Homo sapiens: one gene and its partners. The protein of the gene in region 2 interacts with the protein of the main gene of each other region in a biochemical or structural test. Each region holds a gene or a part of one and is shown on either strand. Other genes may lie near its edges. The genes, in order: MACROH2A1, ATF2, MAPK9 and SMAD4.

The links.
Region 1: the proteins of ATF2 (region 2) and MACROH2A1 form a complex in vitro, tested with the Homo sapiens proteins (one study listed by BioGRID and IntAct).
Region 3: of the proteins of ATF2 (region 2) and MAPK9, one has a biochemical effect on the other in vitro, tested with the Homo sapiens proteins (4 studies listed by BioGRID and IntAct, with this or other methods).
Region 4: the proteins of ATF2 (region 2) and SMAD4 form a complex in vitro, tested with the Homo sapiens proteins (one study listed by BioGRID).

The regions. Positions count from the first base shown.
Region 1 is NC_000005.10:135,333,869-135,340,247, forward strand, and holds the end of MACROH2A1 (core histone macro-H2A.1), read right to left. Parts: intron 5,708-6,379; exon of another isoform or gene 5,560-5,707; intron 4,146-5,559; exon of another isoform or gene 4,063-4,145; intron 1,274-4,062; coding exon 1,108-1,273; 3' UTR 513-1,107; downstream 1-512. UniProt on the Homo sapiens protein: Variant histone H2A which replaces conventional H2A in a subset of nucleosomes where it represses transcription. Nucleosomes wrap and compact DNA into chromatin, limiting DNA accessibility to the cellular machineries which require DNA as a template.
Region 2 is NC_000002.12:175,116,183-175,123,210, forward strand, and holds part of ATF2 (cyclic AMP-dependent transcription factor ATF-2), read right to left. Parts: intron 5,359-7,028; coding exon 5,262-5,358; intron 2,188-5,261; coding exon 2,069-2,187; intron 1,937-2,068; coding exon 1,808-1,936; intron 1-1,807. UniProt on the Homo sapiens protein: Transcriptional activator which regulates the transcription of various genes, including those involved in anti-apoptosis, cell growth, and DNA damage response.
Region 3 is NC_000005.10:180,247,067-180,254,094, reverse strand, and holds part of MAPK9 (mitogen-activated protein kinase 9), read left to right. Parts: intron 1-4,956; coding exon 4,957-5,122; intron 5,123-6,168; coding exon of another isoform or gene 6,169-6,240; intron 6,241-6,366; coding exon of another isoform or gene 6,367-6,395; exon of another isoform or gene 6,396-6,432; intron 6,433-6,584; coding exon 6,585-6,656; coding exon of another isoform or gene 6,657-6,697; exon of another isoform or gene 6,698-7,028. UniProt on the Homo sapiens protein: Serine/threonine-protein kinase involved in various processes such as cell proliferation, differentiation, migration, transformation and programmed cell death.
Region 4 is NC_000018.10:51,061,210-51,068,237, reverse strand, and holds part of SMAD4 (mothers against decapentaplegic homolog 4), read right to left. Parts: intron 2,816-7,028; coding exon 2,632-2,815; coding exon of another isoform or gene 2,625-2,631; exon of another isoform or gene 2,493-2,624; intron 1,220-2,492; coding exon 1,051-1,219; intron 1-1,050. UniProt on the Homo sapiens protein: In muscle physiology, plays a central role in the balance between atrophy and hypertrophy. When recruited by MSTN, promotes atrophy response via phosphorylated SMAD2/4.

The DNA of each region.
Region 1 (6,379 bases), on a different chromosome or scaffold from region 2:
GCTTCTCCTTGGAAAGCTCCACGCACCCTTCTGCCAGGGATCCTGTCCTGCAGGGATGACAGACCCAGCAGCCTCGGCAGAGGGAATGAGGCTCCAGCAGCTTCATCAGCAAGTGGCCAGGCCCAGCCCTAAGTCACAGACTGTCAGAAGGGGACAATGGTAGGAGAGAGCTGGGCTCAGGGTCTGGAGCCTGCCACATGCCACCTGCACGGCTTTGGATACACTCCCTCCTTCATCTGTGGAACGGGGAATGGGGATAACACCCTGGCCCAAGGGTCACACAGAACCAAAAGGTGAGACTTTATAAAAATTCTCTCTACAAACCACTGGGGCCAGCAGATGGCCCACACCCACCCAGGTTGCAGTGAACACTGTGGAGCATCCAAGGAGTTGTGGGAGCAGGGTGGGGGTTGAGGGGGATGGACTGCCCTGCCCCCACATCCTGGGACTGCAGAAGCCGACTTAAGACCTGTGACTCACGGGCACAATAACTGGAACACACCAGTCACAACAACGGTTTAACATTTTACTAAATCAACTCACACAAATTCCAAATTGCAAATATAATTAAGGACAACAGATTCTGCTTTGCCTTATTAAATCTTTCATTTTCAAATCCATCAATAAGACAAAAAGTAACCAAAAATTAGGTCTGTTGCAAATTCATGATTCTTCTGAGGGGGGAAACCAAAAGAACATTAGAGTAAAAAGAACGCCACTGGAGGATGTACAATAAAGCACCACAACACACGCTTACAAACGGGGCTTCCTGGCTTCGGTGACAGGTAAAAGACGCTGTTCTCCCCACTGCTGTGCGTCAATCAGGGTTTCATTAAAATAAAACTATAAAATCTCCTAGGTTACACTAAGTCAGACACGGTCTGGAACACAGTGCTTAACAACAGTAATGCCAACTATCAGTGCTAACATAAAAACATTTTAGAAGGTCAAAAACAATTAAACTGGAAACCAAAGCCTTATTTTCCCTAGATGAGCAAAACTGAAAATGAAAGGGGTCCCACCTCCCAGTAGGAGTGAAGGGGATTTTTTTTTTCTTTTAAACTGAAGGTGGGGTACATGGTGCAGCTGGTTCTGTCATTGCTCAGCCTAGTTGGCGTCCAGCTTGGCCATTTCCTGCACATAGATGCCTATACTCTCGCTGTCAAAAAGCACGAAGTACACCGTTTTGATGGAAGAGGACATTGTAGACACGAAGTAACTGGAGATGGCCTTCAGAATCAGCTGAGCTGCTGTCTGCTTTGGAAAACCGTTCCTGGAGAAGAGAAGATAAGCACTCAGCAACTGGGATGCCACGGGGGCTGCAGGACCTGCCCCACCTTACAGGCCACCTCCCTCTGTGCTGCAGCTTGCCTTGTGTTGGGTCGGTGTCTGTTGAGCCCCGTGTCTGCTTGTACGCCAGTGTGGGAAAGCCCAGTGCCCAGAAGATGGGATGGGGGACAGACAACTGGGCAGAGAGCTGGCACCTGCAGAAGGATGTGCTATGTGCTTTTAGAGAAGGCAGTAGCCAGCAAACAGAATAGTGTTTTGTGGTGTGCATTAAGCCCCCGAAGTACAGTGTAAGCTCCTGATTTTCTTTTTCCATGATACCTTTGACTAGCACAGTGCCTGAGCCATAGCCCAGGCTCTTGATGTCAGCCCCAGGGGATGGCTGCAGGTTCTCTGGGAAGGCACTGACCTCTATCCACCCACACAGAAGAGTTACCCCTTCACACCAGGGGCCACCGCCCAGGAATCCACCCTCTAACACACACCAGCGGTACCACCCCAGAGGCCAGAACGCAGGGAGCTGTGGGCTCTTCAACTCTGGGCTATCATCCAAGTTTCCAAGCCAAATGTGTTTGAATCCACACACATTTCCACTTCAAATAAATGTCGTGGCAATTTTTGGAGGTAGGTGCTCTGGACTTAAAAATGTGAAATCAGGACTGGCAAGACTGGCCCTCACTGCTCTGTGGTGTGCCTGAGGCTGCTCCTGGTCAGCATGGCATGTGGGTAGCCCAGGGGACCCCGGAGGAGATGGGCAGCTTGCCTGGTCTAGTGAAAACCTGGGTTTAGAGCCAGTGGCCCTGGATTCACATCCCTTACTGGTCCCATTTTACAGTTAAGGATACTGAGGGTGAGTCTGGGGCCAGCTCTCATGGGTAGGCTCTTTGTTCATTGGCAGATCTACAGTCACAGATCCGCCTGAGCCTGTGGGCGTGTTGGTGTCCAAAGCGCTGGGCCAACCCGCCTATTTCAGCTGGAGCTCTCCCTCACATGAGGCACCTGCTGCCAGGTGGAGGGGTTTCCAGAGGTGGTAAGGTGGGTATCTACTGTAGTACTGCTAGCTTCACTCACTGCATGCCTGTGCACTCTGAACCTCCTGGCTTGGCCCTGGAACATCTCAGCGATCCACTGTTGACAGTGCACAGTGCATTTCACAGCCACAGGGGAAACCCTCTTGTGACTTGCTTTTGACCACACACGGCTTCACCCGGCTGGTGGAGACTTAGGAGCTTCTGGATGCCTCAGGAGTGGAGTTCACTCTTAGAGGACAAGAGATGTGCCCCCAGCCTATGTGAAGGAGCCTGCGGGCAATTAGTGGGGGGCAACCCAGGGTTCCTTCACACACAGGCGGCAGCTCCTCAGCCACAGAGCAGCCAGCGCATACAACTCTTCCCATGAGAGGGGTCAGAGCTCCAGAGCCGCTCTGGCCACGAGAGTGGTGTTAGACCTGCGCAGCTTCCTCCCGGGAGACCCTGGTGATTCTAGACTAGACTAACAGGTGGGCCAGGATGGAGGGCGGCATGTATAGTGAAAGAAAAGGGCTCTGCTGAGAGTGGGCAGGTCATTCCTCTGGCACCAGTGCTGTTTGCAGATCTGAAATCTTGGCCCACACCAGGCAGAGCTGCCCTGACTATATTCACAGGAGTCAAGGAGCACAGAGGACAGGTTATCTGGAATGAGCCACGTTGAGAATTGCTTGAGGAGATAAAAACTCAATCTTCCATTTTTGGGGGGCATCTTTCCAGCAGCTCAGGCTGCTTCTAACTGTGGGCTGGGATCCTCGGTCCTGTTGCAGCCTGTACTTAGGGGCCAAGGGCTTCTGGAGCAGGCAGAGCCCAGTCTGTGGATGTGACCTGGATCAACGGGGGCTGCAGGGTGCTGAGAGGAGCTGTGAGAAGTTGCATTTTGCATGTGAATCCCAAGACCATGCTCTGCCAGCTCCAAGGTCCCTACAGTGAGGTGCCCTCTTGCCTGTCTCAGCCTCACACGTGCACAGGGAGCTGGGCTGGGCTGAGGGCCTGTGGAGCTACTGCAAACAGCAGTTGTCAGGTGGCCCGATGTTCTGCCTAGCTGAGCTAGCCCTGGGGCAGGGCTTCTGTAGCTGCAGCCGGGCTGCATGCCCAGGCAGCTGTCTCCAACAACGGTTAGCTACATCCCACACAAGCTGGGTGAGATGTGGTATGATGCAGACACAGTGTAGCCTGGCCCATGCCCATGCCATGCCATGCTGACTGGGAGGTCCCAAGGGGTCTCCCTGGAACACACCAAAAGTGTGCCAGTCACTCCTGCCTGTGACCAGTGCTTTCTGACACAGACCCCTCCTGAGGCTTTCCTTGCCTCTGCCTTGGACCCTTACAAAAGAGTATGTGACTTTCAGTGAGGAAATATTCTTTTCTATTCCTCTACATCAATAGTTCTCAAGCTTTAGCCTGCATCAGAATTCTGGAGAGCTTGTCAAAACACAACAGTTTGATTCAGCAGGTCTAGCAGCTTTTGAGAACTGCTGTTCTACAAATAGCCAGCATGGACTTTATAATCCAAGCTGGCAGGGTGGACCCAGATGTTGAGGATCTGCAAGTGGGGGAGAGAGGTCAGTATCAAATGTTTTAGACTTGCAGTGCCCACACCTGCCTACCGTCCCGTTAATAGAGAGCAGACGGTTCCACCGGAATGTCCCTGGCCTTGCAAGCATTTCAGGGTTGTTGGTGGGTGAACATGAATCTGGATTTGTTTCCAGGACAACCCTTTGTTGACAAATCCATCCCTCTGTCCTAGGAAGCTACAGCCTAAGGAAGAAACCCTGCTATGGGACTGTGGCTGCTCTGGACTGCGCAGGCTGCCAGGAAGGAATGGCGGAGGTAACGGCTTTCCTAACGTTTTCTGGTGGGCCTCAAAATGTCTTGCTGCCAGTTAGAATGCTTGTAGCAAAATGGAATGTGTAGGTGGATGCCCTGCAAGAGCACTCCACACACAGCCCTGCAGCCTCCAGACAGAGGCAGCGGTGGCACATGCAGCAGCTGAGGCAGGTCAGACCCAGGTCTGCCTCTGAGGCTTGGGTGGCCTGACAGCCCTACTCCCTCCAGGGTAGAGAAGCAGAGTGGTTAAGAGCTCAGGATTTCCCGGAGTCACACAGGATTTGAGTTGTGGTCCCACTTCGGTGCCTTGTTTCCCCATCCTGTGAAATGGAATCAGAGTCTGGGACAAGAAAATGCAAAGCACCGGGGCATGGCACAGAGAGTCTTCAGTTAAGAGGAGCTGTCTATAAAGTAGGTGGCTTTGAAGGGTCTTTTAAAAGGCTCATGCAGTAGAAAACTGCCCCTTCCACCCTCGTCCCTGGGATAGCTGTGACTGGGTAACTGCTGTTGTCGTTGCAGTTACACGGTGCTAACAATGTTGGCCTCAGACCCCAGAGAGCTGCTGGCCGTGACCGTGGGCATGCAGCAGCAGGGGCTACATAGAGGCTCCCCAGTGCAGTACTGACTGCTTTCAGGAGCAGTCATGCCCACTGGTGTTGCATCTTTGGCTTCTCAGCTGGGTTCACTTGCTACTTGCATAACCACGGCCCCTCTGAATAGCCATTCCTGCCTGGCCTGGCCTCTGTGCCAGCCACTCTGTCCTACAGCTGTGCTGCCTATCTTTCAGATCAGATGTTGCAGAGCAAGAGGGACTAAGGGCTTCCACTCTAGAGTCAGAATTGGGTTTGAATCCCAGCTGCTTTGGGCCAGGGTGTTAACCTCTCTAAGCATTAATTTCCTCCACTAGAAATTAGGTGTTTCAGGGGTCTGTGCAGTGATGACAATGGTGGTGATGATGAGGCTGCCAGTACTGCGGCCACCATCAGCCCCACCTGGGAGATGCGTGCACTGTTTGTTGTTTCCACTCTCTCTTCAGCCCCTGACCTGGCCTGTGGGTTGTGTTTATGGCATGTTCCTTAAGTTCCTCTGGAGTCAAGAGTTTCCTACACCATAGGGCTAGGACCTTAAGCAGACTAAAGAGACATCTGAGCTTTCCCTAAATTCACTCCAGTTGTGTCTGTAATGCCCTTTGCCTTTCCCAAGAGTCCTGGACCTCAGTTTCCCAGGGCCAGTGCAAGATGCCCTCTTGGGTCAGCCTCCTCAGTAATGGCTGGGGGGTGTACGCATTGGATGCTTGTCCCACGGTCCTGTCTGGACACGCAGGGACTCTAGGTGCACCAAGGACCACATCCCAGCTCTTCTCAGCCCTCTCCTTGAGTGGGACTTCACTAAGCACCCCTGCTCTCAGTGAGCTCACCTTCCAGGGCTGGGGCCAGGCAGGTATGCAGCAAATCCAGGCTAGGAGCTCATTAGGGACCTCAGAGAGTCACAGCAGGAGAGGCTGTATCCTGGGAGTCCAGGGAGATTTTTCTGGAGCAGACAGATTGCGAGCTTGCAATTGACGGCTGGGGAGGAGTAGAGGTGGATTCTGGTATTCTTTGTCTGTCACTTAGGGTATAGACATTCTTCTGCTAAGATTAGGTCCCCCTCGCACTGTGCTGTGGGCTGCTCTTAGGCCTTTACCATTTTTTAGTAATTGCCAGGTTGAAGTTGCCCCAGCCACAGGCCACTTTGATCCAAGTCATCAGGATCCTGAGCCGAGAGCAATGGTATACAGGAGGGAGAACATTCAGAAGCGATGGTGATGGGGCCACCACTCCCCTGAGCTGTGCCCCCTGCAGCTAGAGAGGGGATGGGGCAGCCCCAAAGTGGCCTCCCACTCCAGGCCCCCGGGCTTTGGGTAAATGAAAAATTCTCCCCCATTCAAAGGTCTCTTGAGTTTCTGTCCTTTTATCTCACCTCTGAGGCCAATGCTTAGGAGGGGAAAGAGGCTGATGGCTATACTTGGGCAGGTCAGGGAGTTCCCAGGTAGTGTTTTATGCACAGAGAGTACGCAGGCAGGGGGCAGTCCTATGGTGGGATGAGGTGGTGGGACCTGGGGTCTGGCTGACCAATGGAGATGGGAGGCAGGGGTTCCATGAGCCTAACAGCTCTGAAGCGAAGGGCTTCTGATCAAATTCTCACTCTACCAAGTACAAGTTGAGTGACCTCAGATGATTTACTTAACCCCTCTATGC
Region 2 (7,028 bases):
ATGGATTGGAGGTAGAAGCAGGAAGACAAGTTAGAAGGTAACTGTTAATAATCCAAACAAAAGATGATGATGGTTTGGGCTTACGTGGTGTCACTGAACACAGACATAGAGGATGAGATTCAGGTCTGATAAAATATGCTGTTAGTTTCAGTGTAAAAGAAAGAAGAAATTAAGGATGACCCCTAAATTCTCAGCTAGAACAACTAAATGGATGGAGAAAATTTACTGAGATGGGGAAAACTGGGGGAAGAATCAAGGACTCTGATTTTGACCTATTAAGTTTAAGATGTCTATTAGACATAGAAAAGGTAATGTCAAGATGGAGTTGGATATAAATCTGGCAATCTGGTGAGATACCTATGCCCATAGAAATTTGGGAGTCATCAGTATGTAGATGTTTATTAAAGTTATGGGCCTGGATGAGATCACCTAGGAAGAAAATCAAGAAAGAAGAAGAGGTCCAGATTTTTTTTTTTTTAAATCAATTTCATATGGTATACCTTGCTCAAGGAGGGCCTAATGATTGGGGAATGCAGAAAGAAGGAATACTCCTAAAAGATGCTGAAGCAGCCACGAACAATGAAAAACTGTTAAGTGTGAAAAGAATGAAATGCTCTCTAGGAAAAAAGATTTGTATCAGAGATTTAAAAAGCATTTCCAATAACTGTAATAATGTGGAAACAACCTTTATGTCCAAAAAGAACAGGATAACATAATACATATACATATCATATAATAAAATAAAGTACAATCATTAAAAAGTATGATTTGGGGAACTCTCTAATGACATGGGAAAATATTCATCAATACTGAGGGTCTAAAGCACAATATAAAATAAAGCTAGGATCTTTATATCCATCTATCCTTCTATTTAACTATTCACTTATGTATTTGTACCTATAAATGTATATATCTAGAAAAAAATGTTTCAAGATAGTAATTCTTATTCAATTATGTGCTAATAGGTGATTTTGGTTTTCTTTTCATGTTTCTGTATTCTTAGAGAAGAAGAATGAGAATGTACTTTTAAAATGAGAAAAAGAAAATGAAGAAAAAAAAACAGAAAACAAAGCATTTATTCTTAGCCAAAAAGTTATTTTTTCTGTATTTCCTTATTTCTAGCTCCTCTGCCATGACAGAAGTCCATTAATAAGTATGGTTTTAGAATAACAATCTAAAAAAGAATATTGCCACTGCCTCTTTATGTGTCCCATTGCCCTTCGCTGTGTCCTGCATGGTACTCCCAAATAAATATGTGCTTATTCTATGTGCTTGTGAACAAAAGAGTGATCAAGAAGTTCCCATAATAATGTTACTCAACACACAACTGTAGCCCAGGTGGTCCCAGATTATCTGGGTATTCAAGCTAGTATCATCATCGTCCTAATTGCCGCTAACAAAGATCCACTGCTGAGAATGAGTAACTAGTCCCTTAATCCTGTAAAAGTCTAAAAAACCACTGTTCAAATAATTTTTTGAATAGATTCTTAATTAAGCTGTTACTGTATAAAAGTAGCTAAATATAAAATAGCAAAACACAGAAAAATTAAGTTAAATTTATAAATTTATATATCTTTTAAAAATAAGTTTTATGTAACATGACTGTTCTCCCCTATAATTTTTCTATGTACAATAAAAGCTGCAGTCTTCTTACCCTGAAATATCTGAGTATTGACAGGCTTTCACATATAAAACTATTGCAAGCTGACACTGAATTTAATACATTAACATTTTATGGAGATTAAATAGTAAACTTTATTTGGGTACTGTTCCTCCCCCTTACTTTGTATTTCTAAAAATTTCTAACCTTCTCATCACTGGTAGTAGACTCTGGGTGAGGTAAAGGACTATCCTGGTGAGTTGTTTCTACAACAGAAGGCTCCTCAATTTTGCTTCTTATGATAGGTGTTGCAAGAGGGGATAAATCTAGAGGCATCTATAATTCAAATAATAAGGAAAAGGTTATAAGTTCAAAAACAGTGTGTCTAAATTTAAAAAGCAGGAAGTATAAACTATGATTACTTTTCTGTCAGAAGTACTCTTTTTAAATTTCATGGTTACAACATACTTTTTTAATGTCATCTTCTGAAGCTTTCTTGAATTCATTCTCAAATGGACTCGCCAACTCATTAAACAAACCCACTTCTTCACAGTTTTTCAAGAATCTTGTTGGTGTTGGGGTCTGATCTGAAATAAATGTCAAGAAGTAATCATGCATATTTAAATATGTTAAGACTCTAAAATATAGCTACTAAGTTAACAAATTAGCAGGACTGGTTCAGTCAGTTGTTAATTCTCTCTTTGGAAAGACCTCTTCCTTTAAAACAAACAAAATTTGGTTAAATTTTTGTTGTACTTCGTATTTCCTCCAACTTTAAGAACTATGAAATATGAAAGTAGGAAAGAAGTCCTTTTTGCTCCTTAGTCCACTGCTTCTTTCTGAGTAGAATGGCATAAACATCCTCTACTCAAGAGATAAACTATTATTATCTAACACAGTATAAAGAATTTTTTAAATTTACATTATTAAAAACTACAATTATTTAAATAAATGAAATTTGGGGAAAACTAGGATAAGAGCATGTATATCTGCTTTAACTTGGTTCTTCCACTAGCTGTTCATACTCTATTATGAAAGCAAACTAAGATAAAACAATCTTTAATAGGTAGATAAAAATATTGTAAGAAAGAAAAAAAAAGTTAAAACAGCCCTAAAACAACAAACCCTCTTTTTACCACTATCTACTGAAACTAATTTTCTAATTTAATGCATTTTACAAGCTAGGTACAAGGAATATGTGTGAGTCACATGCCTCCAGAATGTTCTAGCTTAATTCCTAAGGAGTAAAGAAAGAGTCTACTCTATTTTCTTACAACATGAAACATTTCAACTTTACTCGAATATGTACTCCTACTATGTACATTAACATAGGTACTCAGTGTCCATGTATAGGCTACAAAAAATGCCAGGTAAGATTTACACTGAATGAAAAGCAAGAAACTTATAAATTCTGCCTATTTAGTGTTACTATTTTCAAGGGTGTCTATTCATATTGATTAGAGTTGGTAGCACATTCAAATTCTATTCACATTTAATATATTTTAGAGCACCAATTTTACAGGCTATAGCAGGGATCTAGCCTAAGTGAAGTAAAAGTACTCTACTAAGGAAGACTCTTGGTTTAAGAGAAAATACTCCTAATTCCTTTTGTAAGATTAAAATTTACATATTTGTTAACCATTATGTCCCCACAGAGGGCATTACTTCCTATTTTACCTTTGCCCCCCACATGTATACCTAGAGGACTAGTATTTTTACTATGTACAAATATATTTCACACTAAAATGACCCACTTGTAATACAAAACTAGACATAATGCAGGCCTGTTTCAGGCACTGTTAGTAATATCAGAATTACTAAAAGGACTCTATTATATCATAATTTTACTAGTTTCTAGCCTATCCCTTAATTCCCACCTCCCAAAAGATCTCAAAAATCACATTACAGTAAGTAAAGTACATGTATTAGCTTAAGTCCATCATGACTAAATTAGTAGGTCAAATCTAAATGTGACTCTTCTGTTCACACCCAAAGGGTTTGTCTATCTAAGTTCATCAGAAGGCTCTTAACTTACATTAAAGGGAGGGGAAAATCTTAAAAAAATAAAATACATAAGCATAAGTCACTTTTATCAATGATTACTGGAACCATCAGACTTCAGAAAAGTCAACATAGGCACAATCATTTAACATGCACATTGCATATGGCTACTGATCACCAAAAATATACCACACACATCATGCATTTTATTTGCATAGTAATGTTAACCTATTCATCTCAACATGTTAGTGAAAAAAAAGGTCAAGTACTGTGTTTGAATGTGCTCTATTTTTCTACTGCATTAAATGTGATCAGACAGGAAAGTAATTTCTAGAAACCAATTTCAAAACATATTTGAGTTAAAGAGTTACACACAGACAGAGATTGTGCTAAGGCAGAAAGTTTCAGAGAAACAAAGAGCTTCATGCCTAGGAGAGTGAACTTTCGAGGTTGTTACTATTTTGCTTGTTTGGTTCCTTTGGTTCTAGCTCTTAATGTCTAATGTAAAATACTCCAAAAAAAAAAAAGCATTATCTCACTCTTCTGTATAAGTAACATATCTCTAAGTTACTTATGGAACTTAGTTAGGATATGTTGGAAGTTCCCCTACATTTTTCCTACGTATATTGTTTTCGATAAATTAACTTTGTTACCTTCAATTTCTTCATTACAAAAATTTCAATACTGTAAGTAGAGGGAAAACCACCGAATATTTGCTTTATTATCTATCCAAAACACTGCATAGAACAATTTGGTCTCTATACTGATTAATAATTTAAAAGTATTACAGTATTTGGGTGTAATTCCAGACTTATATGACATATAACAAGCTTTACAAGAGAAAAGAAAAATCTGGAGTTAATCTGAATATTTATGATATGTAAATCTGTGATGACACAAAGGATCTGAAATTTATATAGTTTTGTTTTATCATAATACTTATAAAATATACAAAAAAGTAGCAAAATTATACATGACATATATGTATATATACATAGATGTGTGTGTGTATATATTTAAATACCAAAAAAAGGCAGCTAATACAGCATGGAATGACAATCAACCAATGTATGAACTGGGTTTTTCTTTTCACATACAGTGAAAAATAATCATCTGCTTAGGTGATACTGTACGTTCATAGTGTCAACACACAAAAACTGCATTGACTGAATTTAGAGCCTCCTTACTGAGAATATTTTACTAATACAAATGTTTAGTCTGAAAAGAAATATAAACAACTCTAATGAACAAGTCTGCTCACTGTTCTTTCTCCAATGGGAGAAGCTTGATCATTTTCTATCTTCACACAGCCTTGTAAGTCAGTTGTACAAGACAGCTAAAAGAAATGCTGACTAAATACCATGTTAGTTCAATTATTAGTTAAATGTAAAATTTGTAGATGGTATGAATGTTCCCAGAGTTCTAATGAACTTCCACAAAATCGACATTGGAATATAAATTTGAAAACCACACAAAAAAATGAAATGAATAGTCAGAAGGAAACATGAAAATGTAATGGGTAAAATACATGTTGCCAACATTTACTATAATGAAGTCATTGGAATATCACCAGACTATATTATTTACAGAGAATACACAAAAATTGTGCACATTCCAGGTGAAATATGTATACAAGCTATTAATAAAAGCATATACTAACCAGCCACAATGACACTGTCATTACGTGCTGGACCAAATTTCAGTGTCATCTCATGTTTATGTTTATGGACAGCCAAATGATCCTCGTTGGTAAAACGCTGTGGCAAAAAGTTTTAAAATATAGTTAAGATTTTCAATTTGATCAAATAAGTAAAATGATTAGGAAATTAATTTCCACAACATGTAAAACCACCATTAACAGTGAAATAGCAGTTTTTAAACTATAAAAGAATCCGTTATTGTTAGTAGATAGCACACTAGATTGCAAACAATCACAGAGAAACCTATTACTCAAGAATAAGCAATACTGATATATTGCTAGGTCACATAACTCATTTGAGAGCATTTAAAAATAAAATTGGAGGCAAAGAAACTTTATATAAATTTCTTATGGATACTAAAAATAGACCACCATTAATTTGTCTTATCATAGTAGAAACTATACTCCATGGTTCAATGACTTTTCAAGAAAGTACTGTAGTATTAATATTTACCTAGACTTAAGGTTACTTACCACTTTTTAAAAGAGAATTTTCTTATAAAAGTATTACGCCTGGACAAAATTTAGAAATAAATCTGATTTTTATGTTACCACATAAAAAAGAATGCCTTTGTTTTAATCCAGCAAAGAAATAGCAACCGATACAATAACAAAACAGCTCATTTTAAAATAAAAAAATTTAAAGTAGCCAAAATAATTTTTTCATGAGAGTTCTTACATAAAAATGGAGCAAAGTTGTTTTTAGAACATTTTATTTTTAAAGTTATCCATCATATTTTTTCCTACCTCTAACTTGGATAAGTTTTGCATGCCAAAGGTAACATTTATGATTACAACATAATAAATGCATTATCTCCAATGTCTGAACATCAACATTTTTGAAGATGCTCATTAAGCAACATTTATAACTGAAAACAGGGAGCTGTTATTTCAGAGCAATAATTTTAAAATGCTAAGTTAACAGATCTCAATTCACTCTTTATAACCTTACAAGTGAGGATGTTAAAATATATATACTTGAACTTGGTTTGCCCAAACCATCAAAATGAATTCCATTTCTTGTGGTCTCCTTCCCCTACCCAATTCACTACATCCTTTCATGCAACTAATAATAGTAGCTTTAGGGTTACCTTAAACACAATGTAAAAGAATGAAACATTTTTAACATTTTAACATCTTTGGCCCAGTCCACTATCCGTCTGCCTGTAGAGGTGAAAATCATCTCATGTGTGCGGCACAATGCCTTGGTTATAGCACCTATCATATTTTCATATGTCTGTCCTTTTAAGTAGGCTGAGCTCCTACCGTGGTCCCCCAAACTTAGCATATAGTTAAGTACTCAATAAATGCTAACTGAAAGAATGAATTCATTACAATAAAATAGATGAATCTTAAAGATCAATCTGAGGGGGCTAAAAAAGACCCTAAACCATTGTTCATTAAGATGAATTCAACTTCAATTTAATCTTGCTACATTTTATCACTTAGTCTTTGGATTACTTCACATGCCAACAGAAAACTATTATTTTATAACCTCTCTTCAGAACCTGCCTGTATTACCACTGAAGGAGAGTGTTCAGATGCAACAACACTTCCACTACTTGACATATTCATTCACTCTTCAGACATTTACTGGGCAGCAACTATAGGCAGTAGGACCACAATCAAACTTTTCCCCACCCAGGTACTGTCTTCCTATTACTTTATCATTATAAGAATCTCCCCCAATTTTGGAGAAATAAGAAACAGTGGTACTTTTGACAGATT
Region 3 (7,028 bases), on a different chromosome or scaffold from region 2:
GTCAGGAGACTGAGGCAGGAGAATTTCTTGAACCCAGGAAGCGGAGGTTGCAGTGAGCTGAGATAGTGCCATTGCACTCCAGCCTGAGCAACAAGATCGAGACTTCGTCTCAAAAAAAAAAAAAAAAAAAAGAGATTGAAGCATTAAAGGCTGACTGGAAGTACTGAGTGAATGGGTAAATTGTTAAAGAATGGGTGTCTCTTGGACCACAGGCAGCCACAGGTGTCACCTTCTGTAGGTTTTTTCTCTGGGCACCATTTAATTTCTCTGGAAAAGGCCCCTTCAGTCCCTTGGTGGAGGGATGTAAGCCTGGCTGCTGGGGTACAGGGCTGTGCTTCTCATGTGGCAGAGCGCAAACTCACCAGGCAGCCCTGTTGCAGGCAGGCCTCACCGTGCCTTCCCTGTTGGTACCCACAGGACTGTGCATGCGGCGCCTGTGGCCCTGCACCTGGAAGCTGGGCATCAGTTTCTCTGCGTGAAGGGCCAGCAGGAGTGAGGAAGGAGTGGAGCCTCACTTCTGGGATGGAGATGGGGATCTGGGACATCTACTACGTACTTGGACTTTCAATAAAATGAAAACTTCTCCAAGTGCTACCCTTGCCTCTTCTGCCTCCATAGCACCTGCATTTCACTTGCTGAGCCTTTCCTGGGTGTCGTGGCCATTTATAGAGGTTGGCATTTCCTTCGCTCAGCTAGGGCATTTGGGCGGCCCTGCAGCTTCCTGTCCCTGTAGCGTGGGGCTTTTCGTGGGCGGCTTCCGCATGCCACGGTGGGTTAGACAGGCGAGGGACTGGCCGGGAGGAGGCCTGTGCGAGAAGGAAGGGGGAGCAGCCAGAGGAGGCAGCAAATGCTAGCTGAACGTAGTGCAGTCCTGGCCCCTCAGAGGCCTGGTCCAGACTGCGGTGCAGCTCTGAGGGCCTCCGGTGTCACACAGGAACGGGCCTGCCTCAGCATCCCTGCCCGGTCGGCCCCTGGCTGACGGCTCTGTGGGAGGTGTGCCCTGGCAGGGACAGAGGGTAGGTGCAGACACCACACTGGGCCATCTGTCACTCTCACTCCTGTGGCGGGAGACCAAGGAGTGCATTTCCGTGGACCCCACAGTCCACCCTGGCCCCCTCAGCTCTACTTCTCCACATAAGTTGGGAATGGCTTTCCTGTGGCGCCCATGGTTCTCTCTTCCTCAGGGGAAATCTGGAAGACAGAGGTTAGTGGGACACCCTGTAGTCCCTGTCACTGTGGTCTCTCTGCTGGCTCTTTCCCTACCCTTTCCTGTTATTCATACCCTCAGCTCTCACATTGGCAGGCCTCTGTGGCTTGCCTGGCCTGTGTCCCAGGCCTTCATTCCTGAGCCGTCTGTGTCTGGTGGCTCTCAGTGGGCCACAGGGTCCCAGGCCACCCAGTGGCCGTCTCCCCAGTCCTCAGTGTGTAGCCGGAGCGGAGGCGCTTGGCAGGTGGAGTAACGCCCACACGAGTTCCTTGGCCTGTGAGTAAGAGTCGTCACAGTGGGAAGGCCAAATGGAAACCTGAAACTGCCCCCAAGATAGTAAATCAAAAACAAGATCACACCCTGCAGGGCCCGGGGTGGGTGGAGGAGACTAGGGCCACCATGGAAGCCTCAGGGGAGCAGAGACAGTGGTATCTTGCATCCCAGTCTAACTCGTTAGTCCAGCCCTTGAAGAAGCTGCATGGATTCTGGAGAATGACCCCAGACGGCCACAGGCTTACGGCACTGGCAGTCCTGGCCGCAGCTGCTGTGCATGTCAAGGTGCAGTTGTTGCTGGAGCAGATTAATAAGGCCTCAGGTCTGGCATGTTGATGGGGCAAATGCATCCTCCACACTGATTAGAAGAGAGGCCCAGACAGCGCCCACACTGCTGCAGGCTGGACAGCAATGTTCTCTCACAGCCTTGCTCTAAGCCTTTGCTAACGTTCCCACCCTCCCATAACATGGCCGCAAGAGACCTGGCCCAGACTTCACTTATGCCCTGACCCCTGACCCCTGACCCCACGAACCCTGCAAGTGGAGGAGCCCTGAGAGTGTTTGGGGTCTTCGGGTTTCAGTGTCTACTTAGAGCTGTGTCCATTCATCCTCAAGAGTGCCTGGCTGTTCTTACCCGGTGGGTGGCCACAGGTACCTGTGGGGAAGGACCGGCAAGGCCAGACAGTGGACACCTGTCATGATGTGCTCCTTCCTGGGATACCTCTCAAGCAGTGGGTCTGGATCCCAGAGTTGAGCGGGCAGTGGGGGAGGTCAGCACCTGCCCCACTCATGCTGCGGGTGCTGTGGGTACCCTCACTGCTGCCCACAGGGTAGCGTTGGGTTCCAGGCATTTTGGGAGCCAAGCCCCGATCCAGGCGTCACTTGGATCTGTACTTGGCATTTGTCTTCTTTGTTCTGAGTGATTTTCAAGACTTGAAGGGGCAGAACTGTCTTTCCTCTGCTGTCTTGAAATTGAAGTGAGGTGTTGGGAAGCTGCCTCAGGTTGTATTTCGGGGGTGACTAGAGAGGGTCCCAGGGTGCGGGGAGAGCACCTCCTTAGCCACCTCCCCATTGGCCACACAGAGCACCCACACAAGCTTGGGACTTTATCACCACAGTCTTCCAGCAGACGGCAGTAAAGTGTGCTTTTCCTGTTAAATTAGTATGTGATGACAGTTTTTTGACAGATGGCAGTGTCTTCAGATGAGCGTGTTTCTGGCGCACTGGGGTTCACAGAGCTGGCAGGCAGCCCGTGGAGATGGTTCCACTGCTGCGTCTGTCCTTGGTAGAACCAGGCTGTCCTTGTCTTCCTTGCTCCTGCGGCCGTGCTGTTAGTTCTGGGTGGGCTGGGCTTCAGGGCCTGCTGGCTGGGGAAGTGTGTGCATTTCACACCTCAGAAATCAGCCTCCTGGAGAGAAAGTGCCCACTGCACACCCTCTGTGGCCTGAGGAAGCGCCTGTTTCTGCTTCTCCCGCCAGCACCGAGTCTGCTTGCTTTCCATCGCTGCCAAGTGATAGACTAAAAATGGGCATTCATTTTGGGTTTTTAAAGAAGATTTTTGTGAGATTGAGCATTATTTTATCTGTTAGTAATTTATGTTCTAAAATGCCTGTTCTTGTCATACTCTTTGATTTTAAAAAAGGAAACAAGAAGCGAATTCGTTCATTTGGTCTTAGCTCCCTGACTTGGTCCTCACAGCGGAGCGTCCCTGGTTGAATGTGGGCTGCTTCTCCCTGGCTTTCCTTCATGCAGGGAGGCAGCCCGGTTTCTTCCTCTCAGGCCTTTCTGGGAACCGGGGGTGTCTGCACAGTACTCTAAGGTGGAATGGAGGGGCTGGGGGCCTCTTTTTGGGGCCAGGTAGAGATTGTGACTGCATTTTTAAACATTATATGTTTATCATTTAAATCTTACAGAATCTAGGAAGCCTAGAAACAGGTCACTTAGCAGCATGGCAGTGTAATTGTACCTGTTGTCAATGTCGAAATGGCTTCCTGCTTGCCCTGATGACAGCCCCACAGCCTTCACTGAGGCATGCCGCCTGCAACCCCCCTTGTGGCCCATCAGTTGGGGTGTCTTACAGGCAGGTGCTAGGCAGTGCTACTGAACCTGCAACTTCCTGGGTAAAGTATCCTCATGCCTTACGCCATGTCAGTGGCTTGGCAGTTTGACATTGCAGGTGCACTACTCTTGTGAAAAGAATGGGTGTGGGTTGTTTACAAGTCACAGTTTCTCAAGTGAGTTTGCAGGCCGAAGTCCCCAGGCAAAAGTCAAATTCCTAAGGCCTGAGGAAGGGGCTAGGGTGGAGGATCAGCAGGAAGAAAATCCCTTAGTTATGAGGGAAAAGGTTGCAGAAGTTGTGTTAAGGCTTTGCAAGTCAGGTGGAATATGATGCATGTCTTCATTCTGCAGACACTTCCCAAGTGTCTGCTCGCGCCAGGCGTGCTTCTGAGTGCTGAGAGCTCACACAGAGTCAGCACTGGGGAGGGAAGAGAGGTGGCAACCAGAACATGAGCAGGTGAGTTTTTGTGCCACGTACAGATGGAGACAGCAGCACCAGTGCTGGCGTGTCTTTGTGGCGAAGGTGAGAAGATTGGAGGTGGATGATCATGGAATTGCTCTTCCAAGGAGAGAAAGAGCCATGGGAAGATTCCAGGATCAGACGATTCTAGACCTGTGCTGTCCAGTATGGCAGCCACTAACCACAGGAGGCTGTGGAGCACTCAGGATGTGGCCGTGCTGCAGTTGTAAAATACATACTGGACTTCAAAGGCTCAGTACTAAAAAGAGAATGTAAAATATCTCAGTATTTTTCTTATGTTGATTACATTTTGAAATGATAATATTATGGATATATTGGGTTAAAAAAATATACTGTATGATTAAAATTAATTTCACCTATTTCTGCATGCTGTTGAGCATGGCTAGTAGAAAATGTAAATTATACACATCGTTCGCATTATATGACATTGTCTGTGGGACAGCACTGCCCTGGACTGACAGACAGCATGAGGACCTTAGCAAGAGAGAGTCAGAGTATTGGGGAACTCAAGTCCAGGCGTGGAGAGCAGGAGGGGGCCGTGTGTGCTGGACTGACAGCATGAGGACCTTAGCAAGAGAGAGTCAGAGTATTGGGGAACTCAAGTCCAGGCGTGGAGAGCGGGAGGGGGGCATGTGTGCTGGACGTGTAGATGCATGGATGGAGGGTAGATAGGACAGCCTGAGGGCCTGCGAGACCACAGAAAGGGCAAATGGGGGCCATGAAGGTTTCCACTGGGGGTAAGGGGCACCATCTGACGGCTTTAGGCTGATTTGTTTTAGTTTCAATTTGAGAGTAAGATTTTCCAAAGTTGTTCCCAAATCTCAGAGTTCAGTTCACTCCCTACACTCTCACACTGGCTTCACGACCCTCACGGATGTGAAGTAGTTTATTTAGCATGCTTCATTCATTTTACTAATTTAAGCCATTTCTTTCCTAGGATTTGAAGCCTAGCAACATTGTTGTGAAATCAGACTGCACCCTGAAGATCCTTGACTTTGGCCTGGCCCGGACAGCGTGCACTAACTTCATGATGACCCCTTACGTGGTGACACGGTACTACCGGGCGCCCGAAGTCATCCTGGGTATGGGCTACAAAGAGAACGGTGAGTATAGCCGGGGCTGGAAGAGGCTGGGATGTTTAGAAATTGCTCTAGCGGTGGTCTCGAGTTTTTTCTCTTTCCTTTGAACCATATGATATATACTGTGGGGACTGTTACACCCAGAATATAGCATGATCCAGAGATAAGAAATAATTAATTGTGTTTTTCCATTGGTTAAAATCATTCTCTTTTAAAAATTCACTTTTAAAATTGTTATTTTTGAACTTTTTAATCAGAGTTAAGCTGTCTATAGCCAAGTGTGCAAATCCTGAGTGTGCAGCTCAGCTGAGGTGAGCACACCCACAGCAGCAGCAGCTCTGGCCTCCCCATGGCCCCTCCTCGCAGCCCACGAGGCTGGCCAATCTCCTGATCTCCAGTACCATGGATCAGCTTTATTTGTTGGTCTGCATATTGTTTTTTTGAATTTGATGTAAATAGAATAACACATGTTTTCATGTAAAATTGGTGTCTTTTTACATCAAAACTTAGCTTATTCTAGCAATATCAGAGCTCTTTGAAACTTGGCTTTTAGCAAATTTGTTGAAAATAACGAAATCACGCTTACTTATTTTTAAAAAGACTGAAAGTTTGCCCGGGTCATCTGAAATGAGTTTTGCTACAGGTTCATCTTGCTGCGTTGTAGCTTGTGTTCCCACCCTGAGGGGCACAGCTTCATGTGCTTCCTGTGGAGGGGAGAGAAAACTTGATCCCCTGTTCACTTCTCCCCTCGGCCCGCCAGCAGGGCACTTAGAGGCCTCTGCTGTCTGTCTGAGGCCCCACAGATGAGGGTGGGCACCGTGGAAGTCTGGGCCCCTCTAGCAGGGCCTCACCTGCAGTCCTGCAAGCCAGCCAGCCTGTGCCGCCAGTGAGTGCTGCTGCCTTTCTGACGGGGCAGTCTAGAAAATGATCGCTCAGGAGGTGTGGTATCAACAACGCACAGAGGCTCCCGCCGGCAAGCTAGTGACGTGTACCGGGTTTGTCCTGGGAGGGGGTTTGAAGAAAAAAGATGGGGGACTCTAGCTGGTTTTTAATCCCCTGGTGTTTGGTAGTGGACATCTGGTCTGTCGGGTGCATCATGGCAGAAATGGTCCTCCATAAAGTCCTGTTCCCGGGAAGAGACTGTATCCTTCACAGGGGACCCGGTACTTGGCCATGGAGGCTGGGGTGGGCGTGTGGCCCTGAAAAGCTTTGTGTTCACAGGCACTTCTTGTTTCTGGTTTTTTGTTTGTTTGTTTGTTTGTTTTAAGCTATAAAGTATTGGACTCTTTGGCACTAAAACCCCAGATTGCTACAAACCGAAGGCTAAAATAGAGGTCAGCAATCATTCATATTGTGTAAAATGTCACCCTTAGCTAGCAATTTATTTTTCCATATTTGTGTGTTTAGTGCACTGTTAGAATTCCTTTTCCTCACTTTTGTTTTGTTCATGGCACTTCATAATTTTATCATTTCATTTTATTTTCAGTTGATATCTGGTCAGTGGGTTGCATCATGGGAGAGCTGGTGAAAGGTTGTGTGATATTCCAAGGCACTGACCGTATCCTTCCCCGCGACCTTGGCCCCGCCATGCTTTCTTAATGCCTCAGGCAGCATGACCACCTGCTTACACGAGCGCTCACGAGGACAAAGTCGTAAAATCCACTCCAGACTGTGTTCTAAGGGGGGCTTTACTGTATTTGTTAATTAGTGTCACAAGCCAAGTGGTTCAATTTCATTCTTTATTTTTAACTTGACTACCTGTGATGACTTTGAGACTTAGAGTTCAGTTAAACCGATTATATTAGCTCTTAATTTTGCCAAAAATAGCTGGACACATAGAAGAAATTATTTACTCTTTGATAAGTATATTCTGATATTTAAATGAAAATACTGTATTATTTAGTTTATTCCGTTAATTTAACTAGGAAAG
Region 4 (7,028 bases), on a different chromosome or scaffold from region 2:
GTTTAAAAGTGTCATATAAAAAAATTCCAACATTCTTTAACTGAACTATAACTGGAAATGAGAAACTGGGTTTGCTGTTGTGAGGTAATCAGGCAATTCCATTTTTATGGATGCTATGGGGCTACATTATTTTTATCCTAAGCAACTTCCTGGTAATAAGTTATGAGACACAGTTAATTCTACCAATTTACAATCACTGACAATGAAAATGTTGAGGATGACACACAATTAAAAATATATTTAGGCTATCTAATTACAACTGCCTTTCTCTTTCAAAAACAGGTTATATTATAAAGTAAAATTCAAACAGGTTGAATATATAACTAGTGAAAAATATTTCAGGCTTATCAGGTTCTTAATTTGAAAAGCTATTAATTTTAGAATTCTCTTCCATAAAATCCTGAAGATTGGCTAAGATGAAAGTCCAGAGTCTGATTCTTACAAATTTCAAGTTACAGGAATACAACTTTGGAGGCTTCACTCAGTATTTTCAAGAGCCTTTGTATTACTCTAAAACATGTAACAGGCCTGGCACAGTGGTTCACACCTGTAATCCCAGCACTTTGGGAGGCCAAGTTGGGCGGATCACTTTAGGTCAGGAGTTCGAGACCAGCCTGGCCAACATGGTGAAACCCCGTCTCTACTAAAAATACAAAAAATTGCCAGGCACAGTAACATGTGCCTGTAATCCCAGCTACTTGGGATGCTGAGGCACGAGAATTGCTTGAACCCAGGAGGCGCAGGTTGCAGTGAGCCGAGATCACGCCACTGCATTCCAGCCTGGGCGACGAGAGCAAGACTCTGTCTCAAAAATAAATAAATAAATAAATAAATAAAATAAAAAACAAAATGTAACAAATTGGCAACGATAAAACTAGATTACTGATAATGTCAATAAATGCCCTCAGAAAATGTGTTTTTTATACTTAAACACAATTTCTTATTATTTAATATATAAAACATTTTTCCATTCCTTCCACCCAGATTTCAATTCTTTTGACAACAAATAGAGCTTTAAGTCTAAAATATTCAAATAAAATTGTAACTAACCTTTATATATGCACTTGGGTAGATCTTATGAACAGCATCTCCAGGTGCACGCCCAGCTTCTCTGTCTAAGTAGTAACTCTGTACAAAGACCGCGTGGTCACTAAGGCACCTGACCCAAACATCACCTTCACCTTTACATTCCAACTGCACACCTTTGCCTATGTGCAACCTTAGGAAGAAAAAAGAAATTACATTTTATCTTGATAAGTATTTTAAATTAAATTTTAGTTCAGATTGTATAGCATGCTTAATATTGAAAAATTAAAAATAAAGATCACATAAAACCAAAAGATAGCTATTAACATTTTTGTATATTTCCTTTTTTCTTTTCCTGTTCATATCTAATAATGATGCACATATTTACAACACTTACTATGTGTCAGGAGCATGTAGTATGAATTCTCATTAAACCCTTACAACTCAACAAGTACTATTATTCTAATTTTTTTAGATAAAGAAACTAAGGCATACTGTCCAAATTGATAGCCACTAGCCACATGTGACTATTTAAATTAAATTAAAACTAATTAGAAATCCGATTAGTCAATCAAGTGAGCTATAATTTAAGTGCTCAATAGTTACATGTGGCTAGTGGCTACCGAACTGGACAGTGCAAATATAAATCATTTTCTTCATCACAGAAAATTCTATTAGGCAGAATGGCTTAGAGGTTAGGTAATTTGCCAAAGTCACATGACAGCAAGTGATAGAGCCAAGATTATGTTCTTTAGCACACACATCCTTAAAAGCCGAGATCATACAGTAGCTAAAATGGAATGTTCCTGTAATATTTCACTGTAAGCATTTCCATTTCATTATATAAACTTTTTTTTTTTTTTTTTTTGAAATGGAGTCTCACTCTGTCACCCAGGCTGGGGTGCAGTGGCACGATCTCAGCTCACTGCAACCTCCACCTCCTGGGTTCAAGCAATTCTCCTGTCTCAGCCTCCTGAGTAGCTGGGATTACAGGTGGACACCACCACATATGGCTAATTTTTGGTAGAGACAGGGTTTCACCATGTTGGCCAGGCTGGTCTCGAACTCCTGACCTCAAGTGATCTGCCTGACTCCGCCTCCCAAAGTGCTGGGATTATAGGTGTGAGCCACCGCACCCAGCCTCATTATATAAACTTTTAAACATTTTAATGACTGTATAAAAAAGGAAAAATTTATCATAATTTACTTAACCATTTCCCTTTTATTACCAATTTTTTTAACATTATAAGTAAAACTTTCAGAAACATGTTCTCATTTAATATTACTTCCTTTCAGTAATTTGTAGAAATGTATGATCACAGAAAATAAAATTTTCAAACTGAATTTCAAAAGGTATACTTACTATTCGAAACATAGAAACCTACTAACATAAAAAAGGCTATCTTTTATCATTATATGTTAAACAACAAAAACACCGACAATTAAGATGGAGTGCTTACAAATTCTGAGTTTTCAACATGACCTTTATTCCTTTATTTATATTTAAGAACACATATAATGTACATGGGAAAACATAACCTTGAATAAAAGACAATGTACTATGCTCAATTTTTTAAAGTAACTATCTGACTATACAATCAATACCTTGCTCTCTCAATGGCTTCTGTCCTGTGGACATTGGAGAGTTGACCCAAACAAAAGCGATCTCCTCCAGAAGGGTCCACGTATCCATCAACAGTAACAATAGGGCAGCTTGAAGGAACCTTAAATGTCTCTCCTACCTGAACATCCATTTCAAAGTAAGCAATGGAACACCAATACTCAGGAGCTATAGGAAATAAATGGGAAAGAACATCCTCCCATGAGAAAGATATAAGGCTTTCACTTGCACTCCACAACACAGTTTTTCCTAAAAGAAAGGGTAAAGGGAGGGGAGATGGAAATGTAATGCACCCAAAACAACTGGATTAAAATAACATAATGCATTAAAAGGTAGGAATTTCCATGTCTTCTATTTTCTAGCTCAGTACTTAGCACTGTTCTTAAAACACTAATTTTTTTTTTTAATTTCCAATTACCACTTATCCTCAAGTTCTAAAAGTCATTTTTTAAAATCTGGAATTTGGTTCTTACCTCAAAGGACCAGGTCAACTGAGAATTTAAAGAACAGAAATAATCAGAATCTAAAATAAATTATTTTACCATGGTATTTCATTTGACTACACATATTCTCTATGTAGTCTCAACTTTTATTTTTTAAAAACACACTGACCCTAAGATGTATTCCAGGGAACTGTCCTTGAATAACATCGACTCATGACATATTTTTATAGATTCCCTAATTGAGAGAAAGTGCATAAGCAAGTCAGCTATCCCATCCCTGAGTTAAGGTTAATTATACTCTAATCACACAGTTGTTGTACACACAGATTCTCAACTGTCTCTTGGGTAGAAGGTCATTTGTCCCACCTATGCCATAGCAAAAGGTATTTTTAGTGAAGTCAGGTCATGTTAACTACCACAATTTTAACTTTGGAGATGTATTTAGTGTACTCATTTGAACAATAATATATAATTTTAAATCACTGGGAAAAAAGAGGTGCTACTCTGGTTTACAAAGACAACTGATCAAGTATTTCTAATTTTTATTTGTAAACAACAATTATTACATCAAGCCCAAATACATAAAAATTATTTGGCTTTCCTGTTTTAACTCATTTAACAGATATCTACAGAGTATCTAGGGATCTTTCTAGGCACTGCATACACAGTAGAAAACAAAACAGCTACAGTCCCTGTTCTCACAGAGGTGCAGGGGCAGACAAATAAGCAAACAAATGAAATAACTCAGATAACAATGAACACTGTGAAGAAAATAAAACAGGGTATGGAACAGCAGATGATTGGGAAGAACACTTCAGACTGGATGGTAGGGGACATCCCATCTGAAAAGATGGGACCTGAATAACCTTTTATCTATGTGAAGACTGAACAGATTTCAAAGAGGAAGCGAAAGCAAAGACCCCAGGGTGGAAATAGGTTCGACATATTTAAAAGAAAGATTTATCTGTATCTCAATAAGCTGTTTATGAACTTTAAACTAGAATTTGAAGCAATAAAACTTTCAACAATCTTACTTTCAACAAAGTTACTTAGAATGACAAAAAAGAAACCCAGATCTTACGGAAAAAAAAAAAATAACCTAAAATGAAGTATGATTGATGCTTAAAATTTTTTTAAAAGAAAACAACTTGTAAAAGCTATGTACCCTAATTACTTTTCAAAATGCTGCCAAGCAATAAAATACTTTCCAATGCAATGAGGAGTTATCAAAACAGATCACATGAAGATTGGATAATTCAAAAACTTAAAAACTCAAATGTTTTGCCATGTCACTCTAATGAACTTGTCACAAAGATAAATATTTGTTTACATATATTTCATTATGCTTAGAACATAAAAACCAGTGATACACTAAGTGTCTTCACTGAGTGTCTTCTTAAAAAGCCAGTTTTGAAGTATTTATGAAATTATTTTCAGCCGGGCATGGTGGCTCATGCCTATAATCCCAGCACTTTGGGAGGCCAAGATGGGCAGATCACTTGAGCCCAGGAGGTCAAGGCCAGCCTGGGCAACATGGTGAAACCGCGTCTCTACGAAAAATAGAAAAATTGGCTGGGCGTGGTTGTGTCCACCTGTAGTCCCAGCTACACGGGAGGCTGAGATGGGAGAATCACCTAAGTCTGGGAGGTCAGGGCTGCAGTGGGCCATGAGAGTGCCACTGCACTCCAGCCCAGGCCACAGAGTGAGACCCCGTCTCAAAAATTTAAAAAAATATATATATATTGTCTATAGAAAATGTAATGTGAAGGTATCACATTATGCTATGGACAAGAAGCTTCAGCAAACAACTGATAGGTACACTGGTTAAACCAAAACTACAGAGATTGTCTAAGACAACAATTACCCAATGTTTTGGTGGCCAAAAAAAACACAACAAAAAACAGTAACAACACTTAAAAGTGGTCTTTACACAATCAGTCCAAATGTTAAATTGTTTTAAACAAGTATTTATAAAGCTAGGTAAAAAGAAAATGAGGGCCAGGCACGGTAGATCACGCCTGTAATCCCAGCACTTTGGGAGGCCGAGGCGGGCAGATCAAGAGGTCAGGAGTTCGAGACCAGCCTGACCAACATAGTGAAACCCCGTCTCTACTAAAAATACAAAAATTAGCCGGGCGTGGTGGCGGGCGCCTATAGTCCCAGCTACTTGGGAGGCTGAGGCAGAATGGTGTGAACCCGGGAGGCAGAGGTTGCAGTGAGCCAAGTCGCGCCACTGCACTCCAGCCTGGGTGACAGAGCGAGACTCCGTCTCAAAAAAAAAAAAAAAAAAAAAAAACAAGTAAAGCCAGATTACTAGACTGTTTAGGGATGTATTCATCACTTTAAAAGGGCCAGGCATGGTGGCTCATGCCTGTAATCCCAGCATTTTGGGAGCCGATGGGGCAGAGATCACTTGAGGCCAAGAGTTCAAGACCAGCCTGGATAACATGGTGAAACCCTATCTCTACTAACAATACAAAAATTAGCCAGGCATGGTGGCGGGTGCCTATAATCCCAGCTACTCGGGAGGCTGAGGCAGGAGAATGGCTTGAACCTGGAGGTGGAGGTTGCAGTGAGCCGAATTGCATGACTGCACTCTAGCCTGGGTGACAGAACAAGAGTTCATCTCAAAATAAATAAATAAAAATTTAAAAAATAAATAAAAGAGCAAAAAAAAAGTGATATCCATAAAAAGCAGGACAGTAGCTACCTCTGGGGAGAAGGAAAGAGGTTTTGACAGAGACAAAATTCATGGGGTAGGAGGGTTTCTGGGATGCCATAATGTTTTAGTTCTCAATCTGTGTAGTGGTTACATGAGTATTGGTTTTAGTGATGTTAGACTATATACTTACTTGTGTTACATACTTTTCTGTATATTACATTTCTCAAAAAAAGAAAGTTTATGAAAAGGCTAGACCCCTTGACCTACAAAAATGTTTAAAATCACAACACACAATGTAACACAGAAAATCCGTTACAGAAGATAATAAATATATATCGTTAAAAGAATGCTTCTGCCCCACTAATATCACCTTTTCCCTAACCAGAACAAGTATTTGCCTCTTAAATCAGCAAAAAGTTTATTAAACTATGACATCTACTGCTAGCCAGCACAGTAACCCTGGTTCTCACACTCTGGTGTCACTGTAATATGGCCTTTTGATCTAGAAATTCTACAAATTTCTTAAACTAAAATATGAGAAAAGTTATAAACACAAAGATGTTCCCTTCTATTTTTTTAAACAGCTAGAAGAAAAATTAAACCAACATAATCAATAACAGAACATTTACACAAAGAAAATTATGTAGACCTATTTAAGAATTTAAGACCCTTTGAATTAATCATTATGGGCGCTGTGTTTATGTTTTAAAAACCTTTACTGGAAATATATACTAAGATATTTACATATAAAACTAATATAGGATTTGCTTCAAAATAATATAGAATGAAGAAAGAGAGTGAGTATGAATGAAACAAGATTGGTCATTACTTGATAATGGCTGAAACTGAGGAATGAGTACAATGGGGGAACTTCCTGTATTATTCCGGTATGCTTAAAATTCTTTATGCTTGACTTATACACAGTGGAGTACTATTCAGCCATAAAAAAAATGCGATTCAGTCACTTGAGACAACATGGATAGAACTGGAGGTATTATGTTAAGTGAAAGAACCCAGGCAAAGAAAGACAAACATCACATGTTCTTATCTGTGGGATCTAAAAATCAAAACAATTGAACCCATAGAGACAGAGAGTAGAAGGATGGTTACCAGAGGCTGGGAAAGGTAGTGGGGGATTGGGGGAAGGTGAGGATGGTTAATAGTACAAAAAGTAGTTAGAATGAATAAGGTCTAATATTTTACAGCACAACAGGGTGACTGTAGCCAATAATTTAATTGTACACTTTAAAATAACTAACAGAGTATAGATTGTAAC